Linked DNA regions of Homo sapiens: region 2 is linked to region 1. Evidence: fine-mapped expression QTL. Tissue or cell type: whole blood. Region 1 holds a variant in brackets; the other region holds the start of a gene. All regions are shown on one strand. Distances are from middle to middle.

Region 1 (8,101 bases):
TCCTACATGGGAGCATCACTTGAGCCCACAAGAGCCATGACCACGCAACTGCACTCCAGTCTGGGTAAGAGTGAGACCCCATCTCAGCCGGGCGCGGTGGCTCACGCCTGTAATCCCAGCACTTTGGGAGGCTGAGGCGGGCTGATCACCTGACGCCATGAGTTCGAGACCACCCTGCCCAACATGGTGAAACCCCGCCTCTACTAAAAACACAAAAATTAGCCGAGCCGTGGTGGCGGGCGCTTGTAATCCCAGCTACTCGGGAGGCTGAGGCAGGAGAATCGCCTGAACCCGGGAGGCGAAGGTTGCAGTGAGCTGAGATGGCACCACTGCACTCCAGCCTGGGGGGGACAAGAGCGAGACTTCATCTCAAAAAAAAAAAAAAAAAAGATTTTCACCAAATAATACAATTAAAAACTGAAAAGCAGCTTACTTACTGTTTTTTGGTCCCTGGCTCAACTCATCTTGCCACTCTTTGGGAGCAAGAGTCTCAGAAGCATCTTTCTCAGGAATGCAATCTCTCTTCTAAGCTAAGTGCGTAAAATATCCATCAAGACAACGAGAACAAGTAGGGATACACACCTGAACTTCATCATCCTTTCGGATGGGCATGGATCGCACGTTGTACTTCTGTCTCAGCTCTTTGGAAAGAGGGGAAGACATAATCTTCCTTCGAATGTGGGAAGGTGCATTGAAATGCCTTTTGCGATTCTTGCTTCGGTCGGAAGTCACAAAGGGATTAAACTTCATTTTGGCTAAATAAAAAGTTAAAAAGACTCTTAAATGACCAAAATCTCATCCAGCTTCCAAACAAATAACCGCAATGATTTTATCTTGATAGTCTAGAATGATCATAGGCAGTGTCATGTTGTGCAACTTCAACAAAAACTGTTTGATCGGAAGGGCCTATCAACCGAAGCTCGAAACTTTTTATTTTTTGTTTTATTCGGGTGTTTTCTGTATATGTTTACGGACTAAAGACTTTTGCATCAAAAACACTTGTCCTAGTTATAAGACCTTTTAGTTACACTCTCCCAACTCCTCAAGTAGTGCCTGAGGAAATCAAGACTGGACTTACATCTCTGCTGAGCAGACCGACAACGCAATTCTCTTAACTATAACCTCACGTTTTAGAAGGTACAATCAACGTTCATCTTCTACAGGCTTAAGAGTGAATACGTATAGCCCCGCCAAAATGAATAAGGCCCACCAACCCGAACCTGGAAAAGCCTGCACACGTCTCGGGTCCTAAAAGCCTCCCAGTGGGCAAGTGTGGTCTGGAAATTCCGTGAAGACTTTACCGAGAAGTTACTTCGAGACCATTCTCTAGGAAACGACACTACCCAGACTCCAGTCTATTTCCACAGGCTCCCTTCCCTCAGCTCGTTTTCGAGTTCCCAAATCCCCGGTCCCTCCATCCATCTCCGGCCCGGCGGCCCTTGATTTAAGAAAGCAACAGATAAAAAACCATCCCAGTCTCTCCTTCCTGGCTGCTACTCGGCCGACAAGAGACTCTCGGGGTCCCCGCGGTCGGAAGCCACCATGCCCAAGAACGGATGGCTGCTGATTACACCCGCTTGCCCGCCGAATCCTTACCCGCTCCCGCTTCGGTGATGGCCGCAAAAGGGAAGAGAACTACACGCTGCTTCCGGTTCTGTAAGTTTACCAAAGATCTCGCGAGACCTATGTCTCTCGGAGCGAGAGGGGCGCGGAGTTTGAGCGAGGGGAGTAAACTGGGAAATAAATTTATGGCTAGTGTCACCTAGTGGCTAGGAGGGGAACTGCGAGGGATTGCAAAACTCCCCTCCTCCAGGTCCTAGTGTCTCCCTTCCGAGACCCGGGTGCTGCCGCTGAATCCTCTGGGAAGGGTAGTCCCGGGGCTATTGGCTAAGGCTGCTCAGGGTCCAACTGCCCCTGGGGGTGATGAAGGAACGAGCGGCCCCAGGAGACCGCCCAGGAGACCCGCTGGTACCTTCACTCCCAGGTGCCGGGGCGGGGGCCGGCACCCCTTAGCCGGGGAAGCGCAGGCCCTGCTTCTGGCCGCCAGGAGGCGCGGGGACGCCGGCCGGCCGGTCGCCTGGGTCCCTGCACTCACCGTCCCCTCCCGCCCGTGGCGTGGGCGCGGCCAGCGTGCCGGTACTTTAACGAGCTCCACCGCGACGCCGGCCACCGCCCCTGCACCTGGGCGTCTGCTGACCGCACAGCAGGGCCCGCCAGAGATTCAGTTCTGGGTGGTGAGGGGCCTTGCGAGGACCAGGGCCACCGATCGCCGCCTGCCCCCGCGGAAATAGGTCCAAGGCCGCGTTTCCAAGGCGCCCCCAGTGCTGTGGGAGGTGCTGGTCCAGACCACGCTTCGAAGGAGCCAGGCGAGAGGAAGCCTCTCGGTGCGGGGAGCTGCGCGGGTTTCTAAATGCTCGGCCTGTTTGCGTCCAGTTCAGGACCAGACGGAAGCCGTGCGCTCCCTGCAAATGGTTTCTTTTCTTCTTCTTCGTGTGTGTGTGTGTGTGTGTGTGTGTGTGTGTGTGTGTGTGTGTGTGTGTGTGTGTGTGTGTGTGTCTTTTTCTTCTTTTTGAGACAGTTTCGCTCTTGTTGCTCAGGCTGGAGCGCACTGGCACGATCTCCACTCACTGCAACCTCCGCCTCCCGGGTTCTCCTGCCTCAGCCTCCTGAGTAGCTGGGATTACAGGCGCCCGCCACCACGCCCGGCTAATTTTTGTAGTTTTAGTAGAGACGAGGGTTCACCATGTTGGCCAGGCTGGTCTCGAACTCCCGACCTCAGGCAATCCGCCCGCCTCAGCCTCCCAAAGTGCTGGGATTACAGGCGTGAGCCACCGCGCCCGGCCCCTGCAAATGGTTTCTGAGGCAGCGGCAGTGCAGCAGGCACCGGCGCTGAACGGCTTCTGCTGAATGAATGACACGGGTGTCACAGTGACAGAGGACAGGCGTTTCACAAGAATACCGAAGACGTAGTGAGCCTTCTGAGTGTGGGGACGCTCTTCTCTACACTTTACATCATGAATTCTTTTAATCCACAAAATGGCTCTGTTGTTGCTGGTATTATTGTCCCCATTTTACAGATTGGGCAACTCAGCCACAGAGAAATGAGAGGAACTTGGTGCAAGGTTATACAGGACCCATAAGTCACAGCAGAACCCGTGCAGGCTGGCTCCCCGGCCTCTTCTGGGAACTGTATATGGCCCCAATTTGTGGGAACCTCATAGTCAGGACTGCCCAGAGGATGGTCAGCAACGAACATGCGTTTTCATGATTTAAAAATAGTTGTGTTCTTAAATATGCTGTGAAGGAAGTAGCCCTAGATTTTATTCATCACTGAAAAATTCAGCAAGAATTCCTCTGCTGCGACTCTTTTCAACAAATATTTATGAGGCTTCTTTCCTGGGCCAGCCCTGAAACTAGACACTGGCGATGCAAAATAGGTCAAAGTTTGTGCCTTCAGGAAGTTTACTGTCTACAAGAAAAGATAGACAAGGGAATCAACAGCCACGAGACCACAGGAAAAGTGCTCGCTGAGCCAGCTGCCCTTGCTGTCTCTGTGATTCAGGAGCAGAAGGGAGCTCTGGGGTCAGGGAAGACTTCTGAGGTGAGGTCAGCATTGACTGGAATTGGAAGAATGTTAGCATTCGCTCCACAAGGCAGTAGGAATTGCTTGAAGGAAGGCTTGGAGGTGTGAAGCAGCGTGACTCGTGTTTTCCAGGAACCAGGTCCTTGCCGCTGAAGAGAGGCATTTAGACGGGAGCCCAGGGGCTCTAGGGCTGAGCTGAGTGTGATTTGGGTCTGGAAGTCCTAGGGAGCTGCCGAAGGTGCCTGCCTTCCTTCCTTGCCTTGCCTTTCTGGCCTTCACGTTGTCACTCCTTCTCTTTCTTCCTACTGTCCTTACTAGTTTCCCAACTCCCTTCCTGTTCGGGTGTCCCCATCGTCTTCCTGTCTTCCCACCAAGGCCCTCTCTGTTTCCTCAGCCCTCACATCCTCTGCTGACACCCTACCCTCCCAGGCCTTCCTTTCTTTCTCCCTCTGTTCAATACCGAGTCTCAAAATGAAACCTTCAGGCCGGGCATGGTGGCTCACGCCTGTAATCCTAGCACTTTGGGAGGCCGAGGCAGGCAGACTTGAGGTCAGAAGTTAAGGCCAGAAGTTTAAGACCAGCCTGGCCAGCATGGCGAAACCCCATCTCTACTAAAAAAAAAAAAAATTAGCCGGGCGTGGCGGTGTGCACCTGTAATCCCAGCTACTCGGGAGGCTGAGGCAGGAGAATCGCATGAACTTGGGAGGCGGAGCTTGCAGTGAGTGGAGATCATGCCACTGCACTTCAGCCTGGGAGACAGAGCAAGACTCTGTCTCAAAAAAAAAAAAAATTAAACCTTCAGCCCACCATCCATACAGCATGACACTTGATACAATGTGAAAATTTGCAGGGTACAAATTGTCCATACAGATGCAAATGGCCAGTAGCCTAGTTAGAACGTCCCTATCTGTTTTTTTTTGTTTTTTGTTTTTTTTTTGAGGCGGAGTCTCGCTCTGTCACCCAGGCTGGAGTACAGTGG[C/T]GCAATATCTGCTCACTGCAACCTCTGCCTCCTGGGTTCAAGCAATTCTCCTGCCTCAGCCTTCTGAGTAGCTGAGATTACAGGCATGAGCCACTACTCCCGGCTGGCTAATTTTTTTATTTTTGGTAGAGATGGGGTTTCACCACATTGGCCAGGATGGTCTCGAACTCCAGACCTCAAGTGATCTGCCTGCCTCGGCCTCCCAAAGTGCCGGGATTACAGGCGTGAGCTACCACGCCTGGCCGTCCCTTTCTCTCTTTTTTTTTTTTTTGAGACGGAGTCTGGCTCTGTCACCCAGGCTGGAGTGCAGTGGCGCTATCTCGGCTCACTGCAAGCTCTGCCTCCCGGGTTCACGCCATTCTCCTGCCTCAGCCTCCCGAGTAGCTGGGACCACAGGCTCCCGCCACCATGCCCGGCTAATTTCTTTTTGTATTTTTAGTAGAGACGGGGTTTCACCGTGTTAGCCAGGATGGTCTCGATCTCCTGACCTCGTGATCCGCCCGCCTTGGCGTCCCAAAGTGCTGGGATTACAGGCGTGAGCCACCGTGCCCGGCCCCCTTTCTCTTAACGTGTCTGTTGGGTGTCTTGCCTTCACCCTGCAGCCTAGTCTGACTGCACTCTCTCTCCCTCGCTGCCCACATTCCTCTTCCTGGATTTGAAAAAGGTCCCTTTAGGATCATTTTGAAGCCTTCAGACATAGCAAAGCAGGGATTATAGCTAGATTCCACACCCAGAGTTGATTAGACTTAACTTTTTTCTAAACACCAAGCTGTCAGGTTTATTCATTCATTCACTCATTCTCCAAATATTTCTCCAGCTCTTACTGTTTACTAAATTCTGTGTCAGGCACTGGAGATACCAAGATCTATAAGATCTAGCCTCCCCGGAAGGAGCACTTCGTTAAGGAGGAGACAGATGTGACCAGATAAGCATAATCAAGTGTCACCGATGGATGCTTTGTGGGGGATGGGGGGGCGGCGTAGGAGCTGGCAGTTCCCTTGAGCAAGGAAGTGGGCACGTCTTCAGAGGTAACCCTGGAACTATACTGTTTCTGAAAAGCTAGGTAGGAGTTTTCCAGGTAGATGGGGTGGAGTGGGGGTTGGGGTGGGGGGGTGTGTTTCAGGCGGAGTGAGGCTCATAAGCAAAGGCCCAGGCCTGCACCCCACTGCATATTGGGAACTGCAAGTGGTTTGTGCTGAGAATGAGCTGTGGAGTTAATTTATCCCGGTAGGAGGAGGAGTTGTAAGGGTGAGGCAAAGTTGTTTATTGTGTGTCCCTGAAAAAGGACTTTTTTTTTTTTGAGATGGAGTCTCACTCTGTTGCCCAGGTTGAAGTGTAGTGGCACAATCTTGGCTCATTGTAACCTCCACCTCCCGGGTTCAAGCGATCCTCCTGCCTCTGTCTCCTGAGTAGCTGGGATTACAGGTGCACGCCATCATGCCTGGCTAATTTTTGTATTTTTAGTAGAGACAGGGTTTCACCATGTTGGCCAGGCTAGTCTCGAACTCCTGACCTCGTGATCCGCTTGCCTCGGCCTCCCAAAGTGCTGGGATTACAGGCATGAGCCACTGCACCTGGACCCAAAAAGGACATTTATACTGACAAGGAGGTCAAAAGGAGATAGCAGCTGAGTGGTCTTGTGAGTCACACAGGGTTCAGTGAGGGGAGAGGTTATGGAACTGTTTCTGAGGGGCACAGAGGTCTCTAATATGCCTGTCCAGGATCCTGGCAACCCTCGTCAGGGCCCTGCTGGCAATGCTATGGATCCTTAAGCTTGACTGGTAGGCTCAGACTGTGTAAGTGTGTATTACTGTTAAAGGTTATTATGATGGGAAGTGGCTGTGTGTGTGTGTGTGTGTGTGTGTGTGTTGCAGGGGTTGGGGTGCCTCTGGACAAGGGGAGGAAGAGAAAAGCAACTAAGTTTAACCCTAGGCATCCATCCCTCTATCTATCTATCTATCTATCTATCTATCTATCTATCTATCTACTATCTATGTATCTATCTATCTATCTATGTATCTATCTATCTGTCTATCTGTCTATCTCTGTCTGTGTAATGGTATTGTCCTGTAGTGCCCTCACTGCATGATGGTTGCTTAAAACAAAAGATTTTATTTGAAAACAAAGAGGAAAAGAAGAGAAGGGGGAATCAAAATAAGCACATTCAATGACGGGGCCCAGAGAAATGCTCAGGAACTCAGGAACACTGAGAACATTAAATTTTTAAACCTTACTCCTTGGGCGCCTGTTAGCATAAGATGTCACACCTCCAACCAGACAAACCAGCCCCACTAAACCAGTAGTTGACACTCTCGAACCACAGGACAGGTGGTTTGGCAGCTCTTGACTGTTCTTGGGGCAATCTTACTTGGCAACAGGCGTGTACACTGAAGATATCTTTAGCTTCTAATAATTTTTCAATTCAGTTTTTGAATGTTAAATTTACTTGGTTCAAACATCAAAAGGGATAAATTTAAGGTAAAGTGAGGCCGGGCGCAGTGGCTCACGCCTGTAATCCCAGCACTTTGGGAGGTCAAGGTGGGTGGATCAAAAGGTCAGGAGATCAAGACCATCCTGGCTAACACGGTGAGATCCTGTCTCTACTAAAAATACAAAAAAATTAGCTGGGCCTGGTGGCGGGTGCCTGTAGTCCCGGCCACTCGGCAGGCTGAGGCAGGAGAATGGCGTGAACCCTGAAGGCGGAGTTTGCAGTGAGCCGAGATAGCGCCACTGCACTCCAGCCTGGGCGACAGAGCAAGACTCCGTCTCAAAAAAAAAAAAAGGTAAAGTGAAAACTCCCCTTCCCATTCCATCATTTTCTCATTCCTTTCCATGGCTAGTCAGAATTATTAGTGTTTTGTACATCTTCCCAACTTCCTTCCTTCCTTCCTTCCTTCCTTCCTTCCTTCCTTCCTTCCTTCCTTCCTTCCTCCCTCCCTCCCTCCCTCCCTCCCTTCTGCCCTTCTTGTCTTTCTTTTCTTTCTGTCATCAAGGTCTTACTCTGTTGCTCAGGCTGGAGTACACTGGTGCAATCATAGCTCACTGCAGCCTCCTGGGCTCAAGGGACCCTCCCACCTCAACCCCCTGAGTAGCTGGGGCTACAGAGGTGCGCCACCACAAGGTAATTACAATTTTTTTTAAAAAATAGAGATAGGGTCTCACTATGTTGCCCAGGCTGGTCTTGAACTCCTGGCCTCAAGTGATCCTCCCACCTTGGCCTCCCAAAGTGCTGGGCATGAACCACCGTGCCCTGCATTCCCACTTTTTTGATGCATAAGTAAGCAAATAGGAATGTAAATTCTTATTCCCCCCCCTTTCTTTCTTTTTCTTTTTTTTTGAGACAGAGTCTTGCTCTGTCGCCCAGGCTGGAGTGCAACGGTGCGATCTCAGCTCACTGCAACTTCCGCCTCCTGGGTTCAAGCAATTCTCCTGCCTCAGCCTCCCTATTAGCTGGGATTACGGGCACGTACCACCAAGCCCGACTAATTTTTGTATTTTTAGTAGAGACAGGGTTTCACCATGTTGGCCAGGCTGGTCTT
Region 2 (8,101 bases), 97 kb before region 1:
CAAAGTGCTAGGATTACAGGCGTGAGCCACCGCACCTGGCCCATGCCTGTAATCTCTTTGAGAGTCCAAGGTGGGAGGATGGCTTAAGCCCAGGAGGTTGAGGCTGCAGTGAGCTGTTATCATGCCACTGCACTCCAGCCTGGGTGACAGAATAAGACCCTGTCTCAAAAACACAGAAAAAATAAAAATAATAACATTACACCGAATAGGGGATCATGGGCTTCACAAAACTGCCAAAGCAGTCCACAGTAGAAAAAAGGACGAAAACCCCTGCTTAATAGAAATATTCATTGTCCTAACTCAAAGGAATGCTTGACTTTGGGTGTGGTGTTGTCTCTCTGATCTGAGTCCATCTCTTGGTGCCCTAAAGGGGAGAGTCTCTGGGACTCTTGTCCCCATAGCAAACAACTGCATCAACTGCATGCAGGGCATTGGATAAGGGAATGTCCCAGGTGTAGAGAATCAATCAGTTGCAGGCCTACTTGCAACCAGTGGGCTGACAGCGAGCCATACCCTCACATTCGCCTGAGAAAAGTGGCTGCTGGCCTTCTCTCTACTGAGATTTGTCCCCTGATACTTATCATCCTAGCCACAGCCAGCTGGACCAGAGATCTCCCTTGTGTTTGGGTGGTGGCCTGAGGAGTGGCCAGGCAGGAGAGCCGGCCAAATAGGTACTTTCAGATTGAATAACAACTAATCGACCCAGTTGGATCCTGTCCCTTGGGAAGTTGGAATTTGAACACTTGAGGGAGTCGACAGGTGGCAGGGCCAGCAGAATTGACAGGCACACAAAAAAAAAGGTGAAGGGAGAAGGGGAAGTGGAGCCAAGCGTGGGGATTTGCCAAGTGAGGGTGGCCTTCCACCCCATTCATTCAGAGGAGGTCTGGCTGAGCAGCCCCCAAGAGCCCACAGAATTGTGGAGGGCCAGGGGTCCCCAGCTGCGTAGGGCTCATGGGAGAACATGAGACAGGCCAGACACCCAAAATGAGGAAGTTGGGGGGGCTTTTTTCTCAGCCTTCCTGACCTGGCGTGACCTCCTCTGGGCCCATGTAACAGGCCTCCACACCCCCTTATGCCTGGTGCAGGCACCCTGTTAACTTCTATGTCCCTGTAGGTCCCTTTCCAAGGACTCTACCTGCTTGACTGCTCCCAAAGCAGCCAGAGCCAGTATTGCCCCTGGTGGGGAATGGAGCTGGAGAGCAGGCTGGCAGCAAGGAGGAGAGAGGGACAGAGAGGTCTGTCACTCATTATCCCAGAGAAGCATCATGGGGTGGACTCCTCTGACCTGGCTCCTTTTGTTTCCCATGGCTGGGGTCCTTCTTTCCCTCTAGAGCCTGTAACGCCCCCGCTCTGTCAAATTCCTCATACAGCAAACTTATTCTACTCTCTTTACCCAGAAATAGGTCAGACTCAACTACATCCATATCTGATTTCTTCCTTTGTTTTTTTTTTTTTTTGTATGTTTAGTAGAGACAGGGTTTGACCATGTTGGCCAGGCTGGTCTAGAACTCCTGATCTCAGGTGATCCACCCACCTGGGCCTCCCAAAGTGCTGGGATTACAGGTGTGAGCCACGGCGCCTGGCCCCCCAACAGCATTTTAGAGATGAGGAAATGAGACTCAGAGAGGAGTCTGATGGCTATAGTAAGAAATGAGGAGTCAAGCTCCTTAGTGTGCGCTACAAAAACCCTGCACACCTGACTGTGTTTGCAGCTCCCTGCCACCCATTCCCATCCTACCCTCCCTTGCCAAACAGATACACTTGCTTTCTCCAAAATATGCCCTCTCATCTCCAAGTTTTTGCTCCTGATGTTCCCCCAGCTAGAATACCCCTAGGATGTCCTACTGAATTCTGAGTCAAACTTTAAGACTCAAAGTATGGGCCAGGCATGGTGGCGCATGCCTATAATCCCATCACTTTGGGAGGCCAAGGCAGGAGGATCACTTGAGACCAGAAGTCCGAGACCAGCCTGGGCAACACAGTGAGACTCCATCCCTAAAATAAAACACACACACACACACAAAAATTACCGGAGCATGGTGGTGCATGCCTGTAGTCCCAGCTACTCAGGAGGCTGAGGCAGGAGGATGGCTTGAGCCCACAAGGTTGAGGCTGCAGTGAGCTACGACTGCACCACTACAGTCTAGTCTTGGCAACAGTGAGACCGCCTCTCAAAAAAAAAAACAAAAAAAGACTCAAAGTGTGCTCCACTGTTCCTTCAGTGAGGCATCGGGGGCTGTGTCCTAAATGTCTTTGTATCTCCAGCCCTTCACATTAGGGCCTGGCAAGGTAAGAGACCAATAAATATGTACCCTTTGGCTTCATTTCACTAAGTCATTAGGGTCCAGAGGTATGGTCAGCACTTGGAACCCTGTGGAATGGCCTCAAGATCAGAGTCCTCTTGCCCAATTCTTGGCTGGGAAGTAGGTGACATCTAGAATCCATGAGGGTATGGGTGATCTCCTGGGTTCCAGACATTTGCATTGAGTTTATTCAATCACTTAACAATATATATTAGGTCTGGGCTGGGCACGCTGGCTCACGCCTGTAATAATCCCAGCACTTTGGGAGGCCAAGGCAGGCGGATCATCTGAGGTCGGAAGTTCGAGACTCACCTGACCAACATGGAGAAACTCCATCTCTACTAAAAATACAAAATTAGCTGGGTGTGGTGGTGCATGCCTGTAATCCAGCTACTTGGGAGGTTGGGGCAGGAGAACAGCTTGAACCCAGGAGGCGGAGGTTGCAGTGAGCCAAGATCATGCCATTGCACTCCAGCCTGGGCAACAAGAGTGAAACTCCATCTCAAAAACAAAACAAAACAAAAAAACCCAATATATATCAGGTCTGTTATGCTCTAAACACCGTGCCGGGTGCTGAGGATCAAAGATGAATAGAGAAATGAACTGAAATGATATAGTGAAGTTAAAACTTAAAGAACACAACAAATCTGTAAAAGACAAACAAAAGAGGGTTTAATCTGTGCTTCTGTCCAGGTGTGTGGAGCTGGGGGTGGGGTTGCACCTGCCCGGGAGCATTCCCAAGGCAAATATTTGAGAGGAATTAGATTTCTAATACCCAGGTTGGCTCTCACTTTCAGGAAGATGTGAGACCTGAATCCTAACCTGGACGCATTGTTCCCCTAATTCCCAGCAGCAGATCTATGAATTAGCGGTCTGGGTGGCAGCCCATTCTTCTTTCAGAGGCCCAGAACACCGTGAAACTATGCTTTCCTGACTCAAGAGACCCTACCTAGACGTGGGCCCCTTTGACGAGCACCTGCCCCTCAGGAGGGTCTCAGGCGACCTTCTTGGAAGGTGTGACCACTTGAAAAGGACGAGGAGGCCAGGCGCTGTGGCTCTCGCCTGTAATTCCAGCACTTAGGGAGCCGAGGCGGGAGGATCGCTTGAGTCCAGGAGTTTGAGGCCAGCCTGGGCAAGATTGGGAGACACTCCCCACCCCGCCCCATTTCTACAAGTAATTAAAAATTTAGCCGGGCGTGGTGGCGGGAGCAGGAGCCACTCAAGAGGCTGAGGCAGGAGTATCACTTGAGTCCTGGAGGTGGAGACTGCAGTGAGCGGTGATCGCGCCACTGCATTACAGCCTGGGCGACACAGCGAGACCTGTCAATCAATCAATCAATCAATCAATCAAGAGGAGGCTGGCGGGAGCATGCTCGTGACCACCGGGGGCGACATAGACCCTAACCCTAAGTCCAACCCCAAGGCAGACCCCACCGTCCCGCCAGGCGCACTCCTAAGAGCGCGGCTTCCGGAGCAAAGCCGCTGACCCCCGCCCCCAGGGTCTTGGCGCCGATTGGCCAACGAGAGCGCAGGGCGGAGCCAAATCTTAAAGGATCCGGGAGCTAAGCCAGACCCGGGTGGCGGTGGCAGCTGCGAAACCCAGGGAGCCGATGCCACGTGACCCAATGTGGACTTCTTTTAAACCTTTCTAATGCCCATAACCCAGCCTCAGACCCATGGAGCCCACGAGAGACTGCCCGCTGTTCGGGGGCGCCTTTTCCGCCATCCTCCCCATGGGGGCCATTGACGTAAGGTGAGAAGGCCGGGGCGCCCAGGGGCGGCTGACTGGGTGGGTTGTGGGAAGAGACCGGGGTCAACCAGGGTCTGCCTCGCCTCACTCCAGCGACCTCCGACCGGTCCCGGACAATCAAGAAGTTTTCTGCCATCCCGTGACGGACCAGAGCCTGATAGTGGAACTTCTCGAGCTGCAGGCCCACGTACGGGGCGAAGCGGCTGCGCGGTGAGGGAATGGCCCCCGGCTGGCCAATGGCAGGGGCGGGGTCGGACCAGTGGGCGGGGCCCGCGGCCGACGGTTAATCCGGGCGGTGAGACCACGCACGGGCCGGGAGCCAGGCCTGCAACTTAAAGATGCTCCCGGGGAGGCGACCAGAGATGTCCCTTCCTGACCCCGCTTCCCTACTCCAGGTACCACTTTGAGGATGTTGGTGGCGTGCAGGGGGCTAGGGCTGTCCATGTGGAGTCTGTTCAGCCTCTCAGTTTGGAGAACCTGGCCCTGAGGGGCCGCTGTCAAGAAGCCTGGGTCCTCTCTGGCAAGCAGCAGATAGCTAAGGAAAACCAGCAGGTGAGGGCCCGAGAGTGTGTAATGTCCTGGAAGGGCGGTAGCGGGGACGCAGAGATCCAGGTAAGCATCCTGACTCTGATCCCCTTAGGTAGCAAAGGACGTGACACTTCATCAGGCCTTGCTGAGGCTGCCCCAGTACCAGACTGATCTCTTGCTTACCTTCAATCAGCCCCCGTAAGGAGGAAGGAACGGGCGGGTATCTCATGACTGGGTTCCCAGGAGAATCGGGCTGGGAGGGACAGAACAGGGAGACTCACTGGTGGGATCCTCCAAGGAAGCAGGAGTGGGCCAGAGGTTTGGGGTAACTGATACCCAGGTCCTCTGGGGAACAGGAATTGGCAATTTCCAAACCTCAGGCCTGGATGATGTTCTGTCTCCATCTGTTCCCCCACCCCAAGCCCTGACAACAGGTCATCTCTTGGCCCCGAAAATCTGTCACCTGCACCCTGGAGCCTGGGTGACTTTGAACAGCTGGTGACCAGTCTGACCCTTCACGATCCTAACATCTTTGGTCCCCAGTAAAGGCGCTGAAGCACTGCATGATGTTGCTGAGAACTTGGGGACTCGGTTCTGTGAGGGGGAAAAGAGGTTGAAAAGAGGGTTTCCTCTTATTTCTTCCCTGTGCGTAAACATAAGACAATCCCTCTTCAGAATAAACTTGCTTTATAATCAATATAATCTCTGTGCCTTTGAATCTAACAGGACACCTGGGTCCCAGACGCCTGGGAATTGGGTCTCTCGATTCCCTTTGGTTTTGGAGGGAGGAGTTTAAAACTGTGCATGGGAGCAGGAGGGACTCAAGGGTGGCAGTGGTGAGTGGGAGGAAATACACTTTGGGATGACTCGTTCAGCCCTGAGAGAGGGGTGTGAGTTACCCAGGGAATGGGTAGGGAAGGTTTAAAGCAACACCCAAGGAAAGAAGGGAAACTCATCTCTTGTAGTGATTCAACCCTGAGAACAGATGGGGAGTGGGGTTGGCTGTCCCCCATGGATGGATGAAAGGTCACCTAATCAGTAGTCACCAGGACATAGTGGTGGAGGCACAAGTGGCCAAGGAGTGCTCATTTGGTGGAGACTGGGAAAGCGGCTGTTATTTAGTGTCTGTGTAGTAGAGGGAGCGCAGCTGGTCCCAGAAGAAGAGGGAGAGGATGGTGTGGGGGCCGAGGCGGAAGTAGGAGGCACCTATACCCTTGTACATGCCAAAAATGCCCTCGGTCCGAGCTGTCTGCAGCAGAGCGTCCAGTATCCCCCGGTACATGAGGCCCTGAGAGTGTGTCAGAGAGGGAGGGAGAGCACAGAGAAGGAGTTTGTCAGAGCCCACCAGGGGCAGCACCTCTACAGGCTGCATTTCAGGCTATCCCACCTGCACCCGCAATCTGCCTTCCCCATCCCCTGCTTCCCGCCTGCATCCCAGAGCACTTCCTTACCTTGCCCTGTGCATCTGTGGGCTGGTTGTAGAGCCTTGTGCAGGCCACATCAAAGGGTGCCATGGCCAAGACAACTGCAATGCCACTCATCATGGCAGCCACCAGCGCCAACTTCCAGCTCTGGGGAGGAAAGATCTAAGGGGGTAGAGAGGAAGAGCGTTGTCAACCAGCCAACTATTACACCCCAAGGACAGGACAGTCCCTGCCCTGGGGACACAGATGCTGGTAACTGGGGGAGCTTCCACTGCACCAGTTATAACAGTGCAAAAACAGTGAGAAGGAGGAAGGCCAGGGTACCCTGAAGGCTCAGGTACCCCTTCTGGGAGGAAGTGACAAGAGAACTGTGGGAAGGGTCTAAAGAGTTGACCTCCAAGCCCTCCTGCCACTCCCTCACCTGTGAATGTTGGGCACCATCCCCTCCAGGGCCTAGTGCAGCTTGCCCTCCCCTTCCCCCCTTCCCGAAACAGACCCACCCATTTCCCAGGCAGTACCTCCCACTGGCTCAGGAGGTCCTTGGTGGATGAGAAGGTGCACAGCTGGGTGGAGGAACCGACGATAACTCGGGGCAGGCCGCCCAGAGCCCCACGCCATAACCCCACCAGACCATGTTTCTGGCCAATCTCGGTTAGCGCCTGAAACATGCCCTAGTGTGGGGAAGACCGGGGGTGGGGTTCAGACAGCCCAGCATCAGGGGCTGCCATCCTAACACTGCCAAGGATGGGTCCTTAATAGGAATCTCTTGTCCAGACAACCAGTTCAATGTGGGCTTAGAGCCAGAATGTGGGCCCTTGGTTGTCTAGCCACCCCATTGTTCCTTCCCTGGGCACCCAAGAACTGGGGCGGGATGTATGCAAGTGAGGCCATTCACTGGTCAGGAGAAACAGGGGCAGAAAATTAGAGGAACTGGAGTACATATTGGAAAGAGGCATCAGGCACGGTGGCTCACGCCTGTAATCCTAGCACTTTGGGAGGCCCAGGCGGGTGGATCACCTGAGGTCAGGAGTTTGAGACCAGCTTGGCCAACATGGTGAAACCCCATCTCTATTAAAAATACAAAAATTGCCGGGTGCAGTGGCTCATGCCTGTAATCCCAGCACTTTGGGAGGCCGAGGCGGGCGGATCACAAGTTCAGGAGTTCGAGACCAGCCTGACCAACATGGTGAAACCCCATCTCTACTAAAATTACAAAAATTAGCTGGACGTGGTGGCGCATGGCTGTAATCCCAGCTACTCAAGAGGTTGCAGCAGGAGAATCACTTGAACCCGGGAGGTGGAGGTTGCAGTGAGCCAAGACTGCGCCACTGCACTCCAGCCTGGGCAACAGAGCAAGACTCTGTCTCAACAAAACAAAACAAAACAAAAAAAATTTAGCTGGGTGTGGTGGTGCACGCCTGTAGTCCCAAGCTACTCGGGAGGCTGAGGCAGGAGAATCACTTGAACCCGGGAAGCGGAGGTTGCAGTGAGCCGAGATCGTGCCAATGCACTTCAGCCTGGGCAACAGAGCGAGACTCCATCTAAAAAAAGAGTAAAGAGGGTCTGGGTAGACTCCAGGGGCAAAATGGGACAGAACCGATGGGTTGAGCAGAGCAGTGGCTGGGATTGGATCTGTTGGGTGCAGGCAGAAAGCTAGGGGAAAAGAGAAAGGATGGTCAGGGACTTTGGCAGACTTGGGAACCCTCACCTGATGCTTATACTGGTGCCCTACAGCAATTTCTGAGGCTGCCTGTGCCTGCAGGTGTGTCTTCACCTGGGAACAAGAGAATATCATAGCCTGTGCCCCAGTGGCCATCCTCCTACCTGAGAACCAAATGTCTCACCCCCTCACACTTCCTCTAGGGTGTTCAGCAATGAATAGCCTCTTACTCTGATTATTGTTCTTCCTACTTAACAAACTGGTTAACAAAAAGACTCTGTCTCTAGGCTCCAGCCCCAGGGGGGTGGATCTCCCAGCACTGCAAGACACCCCAACCCCTTCATATCCTCTTTCCCTTGGGGCTAGCAGTCGGGGGTGGAGTGGTTGGAGAATGGCAATATTTCCTAAGGCTGTTCATGTTAGGCAAGACCTGGTG

What was found. PIP is the estimated chance that this variant, and not a neighbour inherited with it, causes the effect.
Region 2: it holds the start of RANGRF, and the variant in region 1 is fine-mapped to the expression of RANGRF in whole blood (INTERVAL, PIP above 0.99).

What each region holds. Positions count from the first base shown.
Region 1 is chr17:8,381,561-8,389,661 of GRCh38, forward strand. RPL26 (ribosomal protein L26) reads right to left here and starts at 1,633. Exons shown (of 4, transcript NM_000987.5): 1 at 1,597-1,633; 2 at 583-755. The coding sequence starts at 750. RefSeq lists enhancers at 1,091-1,808, 1,388-1,557, 1,809-2,526 and a silencer at 1,958-2,227. The variant C/T (reference allele first, on the strand shown) is at 4,563.
Region 2 is chr17:8,284,810-8,292,910 of GRCh38, forward strand. It overlaps RANGRF (RAN guanine nucleotide release factor), which reads left to right and starts at 3,861. Exons shown (of 5, transcript NM_016492.5): 1 at 3,861-4,056; 2 at 4,147-4,263; 3 at 4,449-4,605; 4 at 4,694-4,779; 5 at 5,004-5,278. The coding sequence starts at 3,980. The coding sequence ends at 5,127. It overlaps SLC25A35 (solute carrier family 25 member 35), which reads right to left. Exons shown (of 5, transcript NM_001320870.2): 2 at 7,714-7,779; 3 at 6,524-6,676; 4 at 6,033-6,167; 5 at 5,252-5,869. The coding sequence ends at 5,696. RefSeq lists enhancers at 1-492, 3,524-3,753, 4,114-4,233, 4,514-4,583 and a silencer at 4,314-4,363.